Linked DNA regions of Homo sapiens. The protein of the gene in region 2 purifies or fractionates together with the protein of the main gene of each other region. This does not show direct contact. Each region holds a gene or a part of one and is shown on either strand. Other genes may lie near its edges. The genes, in order: CARNMT1 and CIMAP1C.

Evidence for each region.
Region 1: the proteins of CIMAP1C (region 2) and CARNMT1 purify together in Homo sapiens (affinity purification with mass spectrometry; 3 studies listed by BioGRID and IntAct, with this or other methods). This does not show direct contact.

What each region holds. Positions count from the first base shown.
Region 1 is NC_000009.12:74,996,839-75,004,374, forward strand, and holds part of CARNMT1 (carnosine N-methyltransferase), read right to left. Parts: exon of another isoform or gene 3,039-7,536; intron 3,033-3,038; coding exon 2,892-3,032; intron 1,939-2,891; coding exon 1,760-1,938; intron 545-1,759; exon of another isoform or gene 482-544; coding exon of another isoform or gene 417-481; exon of another isoform or gene 1-416.
Region 2 is NC_000015.10:75,718,795-75,727,194, forward strand, and holds the start of CIMAP1C (protein CIMAP1C), read left to right. Parts: upstream 1-5,246; 5' UTR 5,247-5,405; coding exon 5,406-5,523; intron 5,524-6,313; coding exon 6,314-6,424; coding exon of another isoform or gene 6,425-6,475; intron 6,476-7,263; coding exon 7,264-7,377; intron 7,378-8,264; coding exon 8,265-8,400.

The DNA.
Region 1 (7,536 bases), on a different chromosome or scaffold from region 2:
TTAGAGTTTTGTTTATCCTCTATTCAACTTCTAGCCTTCATTTAAAATCACTTAAAACAAAATAATAGTCATTCAAATTTAAACTAGTGTTAACCACCAATTCTGGCAGGTTTCAGAAAGACTGCAGGCACCAGTTGCCAACTGAGAAATGAATGACATCCAAATACTTCAACATCTACCACAACTTCGAATAATTACCAGGGAAAAAGGGGAGCCAGGGGCAGGCAGAAGCAGTGGGTGGGAACCCAGTAGAGAACACCGTTTGCCTCTAGGAGGTATGGTGTCTATACAAATGCTGGTGCAATAAAGGCACTTGATCCCATGGAGGACTACCTTCATCATCTGTTCTCTCAAACCTTGCTCCAGAAAAAGGGGACTTTTACTTGCCTAAGTGATGTTTTCCATTATTTCATTCCTTATCCACAACACCTAACATCTTCCATCTCTCCCTTTCTTCCTTCAGAGTACAGGTTGTCCCAGTCTCAGAGTTCAGAGAAAAATAAACAAAAACTTTCTATGTTGTAAAATAAATAAATAAATAAAAACAATCTATGTTGTTGCTATCCCTGCTTTAAGCCCTCCAATGGCTTCCTGTTTCTCTGAGTACAATTCCAAGTCCTTGCTATGGCCTGCCAACAAGTTTGCCTCATCAAACCCTCTCGAGGCTGACCTCTCACCACTGTACCCATTGCTTACTACAGCCTAGCTCCTCCTTGAGCAGAGCAAGCACTCACTCTACTCCCTGATCCTCTTCCCTTGCCATTCCCCATCTGCAAAATTTTGCCTTCAAATATCTCAGTGGTTTGTCTGTGTACTCTTTCAAGGTTCTCTACTAGACATTTTTTTTTTTTAGTTTCTACTCTTAGAAAGGCTTTCCCTGACAACTCTATATAAAGCAGCAGCCTCTCCCCAGTCACTCTGTAACCCGTCTTCCCTGCCTTATTTTTTCTTCCTTACAATATTGTATTTGTTATTGCCTCACTTTCTCTATTGGAAGTTCTCTGTGGACAGGGATTTTGTTTTGTTCACTGTTCTCTTTTGACACCTAGAAAAATACCTAGTACTTAGTAGGTGCTCAACAAATACCTATTGACTCAATGATCTTGCTGAACCCTCGGTATTCTATTTTGCTTTCCTTTTAGTGCCAATCTCCCTCTCCACTTTCCCTATTACCATCTCCCTTTCTCTCCTGCCTAGCTCAGATTTCTTCAACAGTTTGCCAGGCTGAAGTCAACTGTGCAGCCTGACTATACAAGTCCTCCATGATCTGGAACAAATTCACTTTTCTAGCAATAGCTCCTATTAAATCTCATTAAATCTCCCATTAAATCTTTTCTTTCCCTGCCAGTACAGCTGTGCTGCCATCCCCAATCACCTTGTTCATATCTTTGTACTTCTGTCTGCCTCAAATGCTATTCTCTCAACCTTCAAGTCATAGCCTCACTATGAACAGCTTCCTTCTTACACTAATAACCTTTCATTTTTTTGGTATTCATTACTCATTTAACCTTTGTTTACATGGTATCTCTTAGTATTAATGGGCCCAACAGATTCTAAATTTCTTGACTGTAGATATCTTACACTTCTTATTTCCTATCACTGCCTTGTACACGACCTTGAAAACATTCTAAATTGACACTGACATATGCCTTATGTTCTACCATCAAAATGAATGATCTAAACCTTGGCTTAGGATAAAACTAGCTCATTAAATTTAGAATAAAGGACAAGACTTTTTAAACGCTTGATTTGGACTTACTGCATTCTGAATAAATCTCTTGAAAATCTCCTGCTGTCATAGAAAAGTTAGAACCAGGAGGAAGACTGTGGGGGTCAACATCAGGGAAAAAGATGGGTCGAATCTGATCAGCTGATCTCCGGTTATTGCTAAACTGATGGATCCAAGGATAAAGTTTATATTTATTAATTTCAGAACATCTGCAAAATATGAGTATAAAATCAGGTGTTAACTAAATATTTTACCAAGAAAATCCACTTTAAATACTAAAAATATACTGTTTAATTGAAGATTTGCATATATAATTAATATTTAAAGAGTCACTATTACAGCTTCCCTAATTATCTGAAAATGTACATATACATGTAGATGAGCAACCAATCAATGGATTAAAGACAGAAAAAAAAAGTAAATTCAGAGATATAAATGTGCTGTTCATTCAGATTTTTAAAAATGTATTTCTAAACTTCAAAACCAAGTAATAACAGTCCAACGAGGTTTTTTAAAATGGTACTGGTTTCAACTAAAACAGTTTGCTATTTTTTGTATAACCCTCTTCTTTTTTCCCTTTTTCACCAATCCCCTAAAACTCATACTGCCATCCGAGACAACATATTATTTAAACAAGGCAGCTACTCAATGTACATCTTCTGGCTTTAAAAATAACAATTGTTTTCCACTGCCTTCCAAAAGAGGCCACAGAAGTTCTGAGAGATCTTTCCAACTCAGTCATGAGAGCATACTTGGCCATTTTATAAGAACTTGATTAAGGAGAAAAAGTTATAATTGCTAAACTAAACTCTTATTTAACTAAAGAAACAAGGAAGTAAAGAAGCTTAAGGAATAAATTTAGAAATACTCCTTCCTGGTTCATACTTAGTCCTGAAGATTTTGTACAGAAATCATTTCATGGAATGCCCAGTCACTTTCTATAAAGTCACTTACCCATCTTGTTTCAACACTCTAATAACTAGGCAATTGGTTCAAGTGATAATTTGTGTAAGTACTTTGATTTTAACATAAGACACATTTGTGATATATATAATAATCAAATGCTATGTACTTATCTTCAAATTCAAAATTGTTCAAGAAAATAGGTAAGTCAATCTGATTCTGAGAAATTACTATTTCCAGCAAAAAATAAATTAAATACCTGTTGAGTACAAAGTTGGAAGAAAAGAGCATAAAAAAACTCCATTCATTTCCTTGACAAGCATAACCTAGCATAGCTATTTCCCAGGCCAGTCTTCCTAGTCCAGCACCAGGTACCAGAATATTTACTTTAGAAGGATCCCTGAAATGAAATAAGGCAATTATGTCCAACCCCTCAAAGAAAAAAAGGAAAAGACAAAATCCACATTAACAACTAAAAACTTACTCATTTACTCAATAAGAATAAGCTAAGACTCTGACTTCTCACAATCAAGAAATACTTCTAAATATCAAAAATAAAAGGTATAAGGAATTATTATGTATGTTCCGATATCAGATGAGGGTTTTACCCCTCAAAAATTATTTTTCAGAAAAAAGGAGTCCCCTTACATCTCAAGACTTATAAAGTCACTCATATTCCTAATAGCTGTCACCCTGAACAACTATCTTAGAAAGACAAATTATTCCAAAGGGATCCCAATTAAATATGAAGAGTTTGAACAAAAGTACTTCATCATATGGGACAATAAATACAACATAACTTTATTTCTAAATTTTATATGTAACTCAATTGTTTATGTTAGATTAAACAGATGTAGAGTTTAATGTGTCAGGTATATCTCTAAATCCCTATATATTTTAGTTGACAGAAGAATTTGGGGGAGGGGATATTTTCATGGGGAAAATGGGAAACGGCCCTCTAATTAAACATACATGATAACAAATATATTACACCAAACCAGAGGTTCACAACCAAACTGATCTCTACCTACTAGCACCACACTGCCATTACATATTTCCTTCACGTAAGATCCATCATTCCACTTTCAAACCACTAAAAGTTTTACCAAAACAAGGCTTTTTCTCAGGAATTTTGGCAAATCAATATAATCCCGAGGAAACTAAAATTGTAGTCTTATAAGAAGCCAAAGGAAAATGTATACAATCAGCTAATATCATGTCAGGAAGTAAAAAGAAACTTCACTACTGTATTTCCTAAATTTGGTTCACAAATCAAATCCAATTTCCAAATCTACTCCTACTAATGATTTTTTTATCTTTAACTATGTGGCCTTTAAGTTTGGCATGCTCCAAGCAGCAACAGGGCACTTTACTAGTAGCCCATATAACCTTTGCATGTCCCACTTCAAAATAAGAAAGAACACTATGGGGCTTTTGAAAACTCATAGCTCTAGGACTCTGTGCTATTCCTTATATAAGGGAACTGCCATGATGGCATCCTACTCAGACCTAACGCTCTCTCATTTCTCACTCCCTACCAGACCCACCGAAACCCCTACTCTGGAGAATTACCTTTCTTTTCTCAGTTCCCATCTGTCCAATCATAACATGCATTTCTACCCTTACCCCAGCAAGTGGCTGTTCTCAGTTTAGAATTTTTTTTTTAATTATCTGATCAAACTCATGCAACAGAAAGCAAAAGGATTTGGAAGTAAATTCATATAGTATTTAAATCTTTATATAAAAATAACCAGCAATCAATTTCCAAATGGCTGATGACCCCAGTAAAATATTACCATGCAGGAGTTAGAAATTATGCTACCCTGAAGGGAAAGCTGTGACATAATGTTAACAACAATTATTTTGCTAACTTACAGAAAGTTAACTTAATGACTGCTTTTATCAAATTCTCCTTAACTAAACAGAACCATAGAACTCTCCACCTCAACCTAATGGCAGAAAATATATTAACAGTACCTTGTATTAAAACTGCTATTGAAAGGCTACCCATCAAGTCACAGAATGAAGAATATATCAAAGTCCTATCTTAAGAGTTAACAGACACTAATATAGATGTAAATTACTGGCATTATGACAAAGAGGAAGTGGACATGTAAGAAATGCATTAAAACAAACCCTCTAGAACTGAAAAAATGATCAGGAACTATGCAATGAATGGGTAAGATGGAGAAAATTTTTCCCTAAATCTTTGTTCTTAGCTAGATTTTCTTCATTTGGTCTTTACACAAGGGATATTAACAGCATAATGAAAAGTTCCTCTAACTGTGATGTGCATGAAACTAACGCACTCTAAGTGGGAATTTCTGCTATGAATCCGTATGAAGTCTAGGGCATTTCTATGAGGTCATTTCTGTGGAGAAAAAGAAACACAAATCTAATACAGACCTTAATGGTGAGACAACCTTAAACCAGGCTGAATTTTTTTTTTAAAGCCAGAATAGAAAGGCATACAATATGTGGCTCAGTAATCAAATGGTGCCTACTTGAGATTCTTAGTGAAAACAAGCAAGCCAACAAGTTTACCTAGTTAATAAGGCCCAAATGTGGAGAAGCAGTAGTACATTTACTACAATGTGACCTCCCTAATAACAGGAGGAAAAGTTTCAACAGTTTATTCAAGACAAACAGGAACGGAGAAGGGATACATCTGTAAGGACAGAGTCCATGTGTCTAAAGAGGCCATAGATCACACTTCCATCAACCTTTCTGCTCCAGCTTTTTCACCAGCAGTAAACATTACTCTTGACAGAGGTTTCCTTTGTTACACACAGAACGATCTTTGCACTGCAGTTGTAAATTTTAAAACTCCAACACAAAATGCTGTCTTGTTGGGTCATTATGACACTTGGCTGACCCCTAGTGGTAGAAGTAAATACAACTTTTAAGTACCTACAGTGGTTCTCTTTGAATCATAGTACAGTACAGTAAAAGCCACTAACTACATGTGGCTACTGAACACTTAAAATGTGGCTATTGCAAATTGAGACGTGCTGTAAGTGTAAAATGAACACCAAATTTAAAGACAGTACAAAAAGGAATGAAAAACATCTCATTAATAATCTTTTATTACATTGAAATTTTCAAAATAAAAATAAAATTGCTTCTTTTAAAAAATATGGCTGCCCTGAGCACACTGCCTGTGGCATAGCCCTGCTCTGCAGAGGCAGTCAAAAAAAATTTTTTTTTAATATGAAAAAGAGATCTAAAGCAAATATGGCAAAATGTCAAGGTTTAACAGAGCTAGTATTGAATTTCTTTTTTTTAAATTTGAGACAGTCTTGCTCTGTTGCCCAGGCTGGAGTGCAATAGTGCCATCTCAGGTCACTGCAACCTCTGCCTCTCAGGCTCAGACGATCCTCCTGCCTCAGCCTCCCAAGTGGCTGGGACTACAGGTGTGTGCCACCATGCTCAGCTAATTTTTTTATTTTTAGAGATGGGGTTTCGCCGTGTTGCCCAGGCTGGTCTTGAACTCCTGGGCTCAAGTAACCTACCCACCTTGGCCTCCCAAAGTGCTGGGATTACAGGCATGAGCCACCACACCCAGCCAAAAATTTTTTTATTCATCATAGAAAATTGACTATAAATCAGGAGTGTTTAGCATCTCCTAACTTACCTCTTCATCAACTCCCAACAAAGAACTCTTTATTTCAGCCAGACAACTTCTCACTGATCCCAGAAGACTTTCTTTAGAGCTCTTACCCACAGAAACTCAATTACCTTATTATTATAAATTATCACTTCATCTATATTTCCTAAATATCCCAGGCAAAGTTCCCTGAACTCTCTTCTCTATGCTTTCAATAATTCATTCACAGTTCTATTATAGTTTACATACCAAGGTTCTTCACTTCGCGTCATTCACTTAACACAGGTACAGCAACTATGGCTTGCAGGCCAGTCACCTGTCATTGTAAATGAAGTTTTACTAAAACGCAGCCATACTCACTCATCTAAGAATTGTTTATGGCTGCATTCCTGCAACAAGGCGCTAAGCAGTCTCAACAGAGACGACATTGCCGGCAAAGCCTAACACATTTACTGTTTGGCACTTCAAGAAAACATTTGCCAACCCCTGATCTAATACAATACCCCTGAATCTCCTTCACAGCAGTACACAGAGCTTCCTTAACTCACTGCATGACTGTAACATAATTTATCAAAATCTCCTAATTAAGGATATTTATATTGTTTCCAATCTTTCACTATCATAATGTTAAAACGAATACCCTTAGCATGAATAACTTTTTATTTTGAAAAATTTTACTTCCCACACTACACTAATGTAGTGGCATAAATAACTTTCACATGCAGAAATATATATGTAGAACAGCTTCCCTTAAATTGAACTTCAAGAATCAAGATATGCATTTGTTTTTTGTTTTGTTTTGTTCTGTTTTGCTATGAGACGGAGTCTCGCTCTGTCGCCCAGGCTAGAGTGCAGTGGCACAATCTTGACTCACTGCAACCTCCGCCTCCAGGGTTAAAGCAATTCTCCTGCCTCAGCCTCCCAAATTGCTGGGACTACAGGCCCGTGCCACCACACCCAGCTAATTTTTGTATTTTTAGTAGAGACAGGTTTCACCATGTTAGCAAGGCTGGTCTTGAACTCCTGACCTCAGGTGATCCACCTACTTCAGCCTCCCAAAGTGTTGGGATTACAGGCGTGAGCCACGGCGCCTGGCCAAGATATGCATTTGAATTTTGACAAATAAGCCACATTGTTCTACATAATTTTTTGCTAATTTATTCTTCCACCAGCAACATATTTATGTTTCCTCACACCTGCACTAATAGTTATCTTTTAAATCTTTGCAATAAAATAAGTAAAAAATGGCATCTTAACGTGGTTTTTACATTTGCATTTCCCTATGAGATTGAGTGTC
Region 2 (8,400 bases):
GTGTCCAGGACAAGCCTAGGTTTCTGGCTTGGGCACTTAGAAGGGTGGGTGGTGGTGTCATGGATTGAGATGGACAGGGACTGGGGGGTATCTCATAAGGAAATCTTGGGGCATGTTGATTTCAAGGTGCTTGTGAGAAACCCAGGTGACACTGTGCAGGCGGCTGTATATGTGAGCCTAATGCTCCTAAGAAGGTCTAGTCAGGGGAAGTTTTACTTCCGGATTGCTGGGGTATCGATAAGGGAATTAAAGCAACCAGAGGAGATGAGGCTGCCCGGGAGAGAGGAGCGCGGTGCAAAATGGGAGGAAGACCCAGCACTGAGCCCTGAGACACCAACGTCTCTTCCTTAAAATGTTTATTTTGACATAATTTCAGACTTAGATAAAAGTGGCAAGATGATTACAAATGTTTCCCACATACTCCACCTAGATTTCCCAAATGTTAATTGTTTACCACATTTTAAATTCTTTTCTCTCTCTCTCTCTTTTTTTTTTTTTAGATGGAGTCTCACTGTTTCCAGGCTGGAGTACAGTGGTGCATTCTCAGCTCACTGCAACCTCTGCCTCCCAGGTTCAAGCGATTCTCCTGCCTCAGCTTCCCGAGTAGCTGGGACCACAGGCACGTGCCACCAAGCCCAGCTAATTTTTTGTATTTTTTTTTTTTTTTTTTTTTTTTTTTGGAGATGGAGTGTTGCTCTGTCGCCCAGGCTTGAGTACAGTGCAGTGGCCCCATCTTGGCTCACTGCAAGCTCCGCCTCCTGGGTTCACGCCATTCTCTTGCCTCAGCCTCCCGAGTAGCTGGGACTACAGGCGCCCGCCACCACGCCCGGCTAATTTTTTTTTTTTTTTTGTATTTTTAGTAGAGACAGGGTTTCACCTTGTTAGCCAGGATGGTCTCGATCTCCTGACCTTGTGATCCGCCTGCCTTGGCCTCCCAAAGTGCTGGGATTACAGGCGTGAGCCACCGCACCTGGCCAATTTTTTGTATTTTTAGCAGAGATGGGGTTTTACTGTGTTAGCCAGGGTGGTCTCTATCTCCTGACCTCGTAATTTGCCCGCCTCGGCCTCCCAAAGTGCTGGGATTACAAGCATGAGCCACCACACCCGGCCATCTCTCTCTCTATTTTTCTGAACCATTTGAAAGTAAGTTGCAGACATAATGCTCCTTTATTCCTAAATATTTCAGTGAGTTTTTCCTCTTTTTTAATTTTTTTTTTAAAATGAGACAGGGTCTCGCTCTGCTGCCCAGGCTGGACTGCAGTGGTGCCATCAGAGCTCACCACACCATCAAACTTCTGGACTCAAGGGAGCTTCCTGCTTGAGTAGATGGGATTACAGGCACACACCACCGTGCCTGGCTATTTTTTTTTTTCTTTTTTGGTAGTGACAGGGTCCCACTGTGTTGTCCAGGCTGGTCTCGATCTCCTGGGCTCAAGCAGTATTTCCTAGAACAGGACCTTCTCTTTCATAACTGGAGTGCAATGATCAAAACCAGGAAATTAACATTGGTACAATACTTTGAACTAAGCCATAGACTTTTTTCTCCCCAGCTTTGCCAATTTTCCCAAAAATATCCTTTATAACAAAAGAAAACCTCGGCTTTCTTCTGAGTGTCTATTCATCTTGCATGGTTCTTCAGCGTTTCATTGTCTTCCATGATGTTGCCATTTTTGACAAGTACAGGCCAGTTCTTTTAGGTGAATTTTGGTTTGAGTTTGTCTGTTTTCCTCATGATTAAATTCAGGTTCTGTATTGTGGCAGGAATGCCTAGGAAGTGATGCCGTGCCCTTCTCACGCAGCCTATCAAAAGACACATAACTGGCTGGGCGTGGTGGCTTACACCTGCAATCCCAGCGCTTTGGGAGGCCAAGGAGGGCAGATTACTTGAGGTCAGGAGTTCGAGACCAGCCTGGCCAACATGGTGAAACCCTGCCTCTCCTAAAAATACAAAAATTAGCTGGGCATGGTAGCAGGCTCCCCTAATCCCAGTTATTCAGGAGGCTGAGGCAGGAGAATTGCTTGAACCCAGGAGGCAGAGGTCATAGTGAGCTGAGATCACGCCACTGCACTCTAGCCTGGGTGACAGAGCAAAAGACTCTGTCTCCCCCAAAAATCCCCCACAAAAAAACCAAACAAACAAAACCAAGAGGCACACATCTATTGTGCAATCATTGGGATGTTGACTCGTATCACTTGGTTGAGGTGATGCCTGCCAGGCCTCTCTTCTATAAAGTTACTGTTTCCCCTTTGCAATGAATAAGCATACGCCAACATTGAAAGGTCAGGTTGAGGAAGGAAGGAAGCCAGGAAGAAAGCCAGTGCAGGGGCAGCCGAGAGACAGAAGGAAAGAAGGAGGGCGTCCTGGAGCCAGCAGGAGGGGCAGCATGAGTGAGGCAGGGCTGGCATTTATTGCATTAGAGGATGAAGAGTGTCCCTTGGAAGCAGCTGCCACCTGCAGGTGGCGGGCGTCGAGTTAAGCCTCTTTCGGGTGGAGCAGTGGGCCTGGAGCCAACTCAGGCTGAGTCAAGTGTGAGAGGGAGGTGAGAATGGAGATGACTGGAAAACACCTCTGTGGGGAAGGTGGTCTGTGGGCTGGGCAGAGAGGGACAGGCAGTGACGGAGAAGCATGTGGGCTTGGGGGACAGTTTGAATAGATAGAGGGGACTTAGGATATCTAGAGTGTGACAGGAGGGAGCCAGATGAGAGGCGCAAGTCCAAGGAGAGGGGTGCAATCCACAGTGTCCCAGGCGGGACGTGGGAGCCGATGACAAAAGACATGGCGGTTCTGAGGCTGTGATGGGGGGTACTCGTCAGAGCCCAGCCTGATGGGGCAGGTGGATGGGGGGGCCGGAAGGATGGCCAGGCGAACAGAGGAGAGTGAGCCATGCAGGGGATGATCCCTGGGGGTGGGGGAGAGGGGGAGGGCAGGCTGCCCAGAGGTGGGGGTGGGTGGCAGGTGGCGAGGAGGGCAGGTCCAAGGTTCTGGCCATGAGACTGTCCTGACAGCTTTAGCTGCCTGATGCAGATGGACAACGCAGACCTGGGGGACGCAGTGCTGGGATGTTCCAGGAAAGGGGCTGGATGAGGAGGGTGGTGAAAGCTGGAGGGGCCTGAAGGATGACGCAGAAGTGCAGGGAGTGCAGGGTCAGCACTGGGGTCTCAGAGATGGGGGGCAGGGGATGGCCTCCCAGAGAGACTGGCTGTCAGTGCTGTGGGAGGTGGTGAGAAGCCCAGGATTGCAGTGGGGGACCGGCCTGTGAGGGAGTGGAGTGGAGGTGTTTGCACATGAGGAGGTCTGGGAACGGGGAGGCCAGGGCATTGGTGGTGGTCCCTGGGGAGGCCTGAGCTATCAGGGTCATGGCAGGAGTTGGGGTGGGGTGGAGGTGGCCTCGAGCCACGGCTGCTAGGTTTATGAGTAGGGACCCAGGGCAGCCCTGAGGAGCTGAAGGGGGACACACCTGGATGCCAGTGCCCCAGAGGAATGGGGCATTTGATGGGGAGGGCACAGTCTGGGGACCAAGGCAGCCAGAGACCCACGGCACTGTGGACTCTGAGGCATGAGGGATGTGAATGTCGGAGCAGCCAGCTTTGGACAGGGCCGAGGGCCACCTCCAGGGGTGAGCTGGGTCTCCATCAGAGCTGGAGGAAAGGAAGCATTTGGAACAAATTGGAGTGGCTTGTGACCTGCTGGGGTGCGGGGTGGCCTAGTTTCCTGAAGAGCTGTGCACCAGGATGATGGGGCAGAAGCAGTGAGGGAGGAAGGCAGGAGGCTCCCCGGGCCTGAAATACTTGGAGACTGCCCGCTCACCAGGAAGGTGGGGGTCCCAGCCCCAGATCCGGCCCCTCTCAGCACTGGGATACCATCAGGGCTCGCAGCTTCCTACAGGAAAAGCTGACGCGGATGGGGCTGAGGACATAGCATTGGCCCTGGCCTGAGGCCAGTGAGGCTGGGTCACCCCCCAGCCTGGCTCAGCCCTCCCTTACCCAGAAATCAGAGGTTTACTTGCCCCATGGGCATATGGGGGCACACAGGGTCTGCTGCTGGGGGGACTGGGCCCCTGTCCTCTGTTCTGAGGCCTGTGGTCCCTCAGGGGCTTCTGGACACCCTGCATGCCTGTCCTACCTGCTGCTCTGAGCCCTCGCTGTGCCTGCTGACTGGAATGCGTTCAGAGCATGGCTTGGTTTCTATTCAATCAGAGACTATGATCCAAGGAGAGCCCTGGGTTTTGTGTCCTGGTTCCATCTCTGCTATTTTGATGTAGTAGGAGACTTTGGGCAAGTCCTTGTTCCTTTCCGGGCCTCAGTTTTCTTAACTGTGTACTGGGGTGGTGACAGACACCCCTGTCTAAAGCCAGCAGTCATCTGGTTCCTGAGATGGACACCGCTGACCCGGTTCAGGTCAAATCCCTAGTCTGTTACGAACAGTGGAGGTGACAGGCCCCAGGCCCCCAAAAGCCTCCTGGGTTCTTAGGAATGAAGAGGTTCCCAGCATGTTTTCAGGCCTGGGGCTCATCCATCCGTCAGATGGGGCTGGCTGCCTTCCCTCCCCTTCTATGTGTCCTCTCATACCGCCCTCCAACTCCAACTGCTCCCCTGCCAAGGGAGTGCTCTTGGTCACAGGCACAGGAAGCAGCCCCTTGAAGGCTCAGCACCACCCCTCTGTCCTCCTTTATTTGCTTCCCACTCCTTTTTGTATCCATTGAGCTAGACATGGATCTCTAAAGATACCACACCCTGGGATAGGATTCTGGGGAGGAGCTATCAGACAGTCACACCTTAGTGATAATTGACTTGATATTTTGCCAGGGGAAAAATAGACTTGACAGAAGAGAGGGCATGTCCAGAGCCTGGGAGGTAGGTGGGAGAGGCAGGGGGTAGAGAGCCCCCAGGGGGCTGTGTGTGCTGCACAAACCCTTCACCCGTGACCCACCAACCCTTTCCATTCCTTTCCCCAACCTTAGGGCACCCACTGGGAGTGAAGCGCTAGCTGATACGTAACACCATCTCTCCATTTCCCTTCCCTGACCCAGGGTCCTGGGGACCCCCAGGCCACTTGGCCTGGTTGGTGATGGGGGACAGTGGGATAGTCAGGGTTCCATAACTAAGCTCCCAGCATAGAATTTCCACGCCGCAGTTCAGGCGCCATGGCAACCAGGGGAAATAAACACTACGAGTTTCACAGTCCAAGCTCTGCCGTGACGTCATCTCCAGCTCCAGCCTGCTGGGGCCTGTGCTGACTGTGCCCCAGACAGCCTTAGCTGCTCAAGCTGGAGAACTGTCTTCCTTCCCAGCTTCCTCCGTGTCTGGGGTGGGGGATGGGGGGGTCTCAGGCAGGGATACTCTAGCCCCTTGACTGCTGTTTAGACCCTGCTGTAGCTGCTGCTGCTCCCTGCCCAGCCCCAGCCATGAAACTGCCCAAGGGGACCAGGAGCTCTGTGTACTTTGCACAGCACCCAGAAAAGGAGCCATTGCCCTCAAGGCAGGAGGTCAAGCAGACCCCTGTCATCATGGCCAAGATCAAAGGTGAGAGCCATCCCCACCCTGGGCTTGGGCCCCCTCCCCTCTCTCCAGGACTCCTTCCAGCCTGCCTCCTGCAAAGCCCCTTCCAACTTCCTTGAAGCCTTACAGAAGACCTGAGCCTCCAAGCTGACCCTCACAGGCAGTGTTGGCTGCTGGGATTGTCCAAGTGGGTGGGGGAGGAGGGGAGCATGGGACTTGCAGTGAGGCCCGCTTTGGAAAAAGACTAGGAGCCTTTGTCCTAGCTTTAGCTTTCCTCACTTCCCTTCAATTTTACTCTCAAGGGACAGCAGACGCTAATTCTTACTATGTTGGTAATGACTGACTAGTGCTCTAAGTGGGAGTAGTTTAGTGCAGGGATTGAAGGTTTGGGTTCTACTGGATGATGGTCTTAGAATCTTCACACTACTAGTTTGTGATATGTGGGTAGATATTTCTAAGCCTCAATATTCTGTAAAATGGGAAAAACAAGAGCATTTACCTTACAGCATTGTTCAGAGGCTTAACGGAAATAATCCACGTCGGATGCCTAGTGGAGAACCTGGAGCAGAATAAGTTCTCAATTAACTGTAACTATTAGCTTCTTATTATGCATTGTCTGTCCAAGGGAAACTGCATTTTATCTGGAAATACTGCCTTCCCCCAAACGAAGCAGCTGGATGGATGCTGGGCTCGTGGCAGTGCGATAGCAGCAAGAACAAATACCCCCAATGTTCCCATGGTGCGCTGTACTGGGGCTTCCCCTGCCTCTGACCTGGTGGGCCCAGGCTGAGGGCTGTCCTGTCCATCCTTACAGGTCCGGGGCCCGCCAAGTACCTCCGGCCATCCTGCACGGGCTACATAGATCATGACATCTCCATGTTCAAGGCACCAGCTTATACCCTGCATAGCCGGCACTCAGAGAAGCGTGAGCGTTGCCACCCCAGTCATCCGGCTGGGGTTGGAGCTGTTGTTGGAGGTTGAGGGGAGAGACATGGAGCCATTCTCTGTAGCCACTGGGAATCTGAGACACTCAAGGGGCCCCCTGGGTCCAGAGGAAGCCAGCGGGGATTGAGGGTGGGGCAACTCCATGGGCATCCCCTAGCCGCCTCTCCCAAGGGAGCCTATAGGGGATCCTGGCCCTGTCCAGCTGGCACAGCAGAGTCTCCTTTTTCTGGCCTTTGGCTGGGGCCCTTCAGCTCCGGTCGCCATGCTCTGCTAGGGTCACTTGCCATTGTGGCCAGGCAGGAACAGCTAGGAGGCCAGTGGGGAAGTGGTGGCCCCCAGAGCTCCTCAGGTGGCCTAGAACCCACTGGAAGGGCAGAAGCAGAGGCCACAGATGACCTATGCTGCTGGGCAGGGTGTGGTGGCGTGCACCCGGGGGTCTGAGATCTGGGGTGCCTGTCAGGCCTTTCCCTGGGGAGAATACCCACCTCAGCAAGGTAAGCCCCTGGCCTGGCTGGGCCTTTGCTGAATGCCCACAGCAGCCACAGGGCTATTACTCCCCGTTGGCCCCAACCCCTGATTGGGTGGGTGGCTGCCCAAGCTGCTGGGCAGCTGTTATTTTACTGTTCCTCTGAGCAAGTTCTTGAAAATACCAGGTCATGTGTTAAAAGTCCCATTTTACAGATGAGGAAATCAAGGGTCCCCAAACACCCAGGAGCCACAGAATCTGAAGTGGGAGGGAGATCTTGCCTGGAGGCAGGCCAGGTGCTCAGTGGGGCAGCCTTTGGGGCTGACCAGGCCCTCTCCTTGGTTGCCCTGCAGGGATGGTGTGCCACAGCAGCCCTGGGCCTTGCTATCTCTTGGATCCCAAAATAACTCGGTTTGGAATGTCCAGCTGCCCGCAGGTCCCCATGGAGGAGCGCATCTCCAACCTGCGTAAGATGGGGTTATGGACAGATGTTGGGGGTTGGGAGGTTGGGGGGTGGGGTGCACCCTTAGGACCTGGGCAGGGGCAAAGGGTCAAGACTTCCTCCTTGGAAATGTCTGGATGCCGGTATCTCCCTGCAAGACACCGACATTGCAATGCTGACATCACCATGTCTTGAAGTCAATGTTATGACATGCAGCATGTCACCAGGTGACGTTATGATGACATGGAGCTCCTGTTGTGGATGCAATATTGTCATGCGAACGAGCTCACAGACTGTAGTGATCTCAGAATGTTTCTGTGTCGCTGTCAGAGGGACAATGTCTGGATGCTGACACTGTAGCAACTGGGGGTAATCCAAGGGGAATGTTATGATGACATTATGGTTTTTTACATGATGACCACTGTGTTGCCATCCTGATGTCAGGATGGCCTAAGTGACCATCTTATTTATTTATTATTTATTTATTTAGATCGAGTCTCGCTCTGTTGCCCAGGCTGGAGTGCAGTGGCGTGATCTCGGCTCACTGCAACCTCCACCTCCTGGGTTGGAGTGATTCTCCTGCCTCAGCCTTCTGAATAGCTGGGATTACAGGTGCACGCCACCACGCCCAGCTAATTTTTGTATTTTTAGTAGAGATGGGGTTTCACCATGTTGGTCAGGCTGGTCTCGAACTCCTGATCTTGTGATCTGCCTGCCTTAGCCTCCCAAAGTGCTGGGATTGCAGGTGTGAGCCACCGCGTCCGGCCTAAGTGACCATTTGGATGTCCCTGCCCTGCTGCTGAGGTGGTCAGCCTGAGGTCACAGTGGATAACCAGGACCATCAGTTGGCTAGCAGAGAATGAGGTCTGTTCCCTGCTCTGAGAGCCCTCCCTTCCCGCCACTCCCTTTCAGGCCTGAACCCCACCCTCGCATCCTGCCAGTACTACTTTGAGAAGATCCACCCACCGGGGGAACGCAGGGCTCCCCAGTACACGTTTGGCTACCGGCGCCCATACAGAGTGATGGACCTCAACCCGGCTCCCAACCA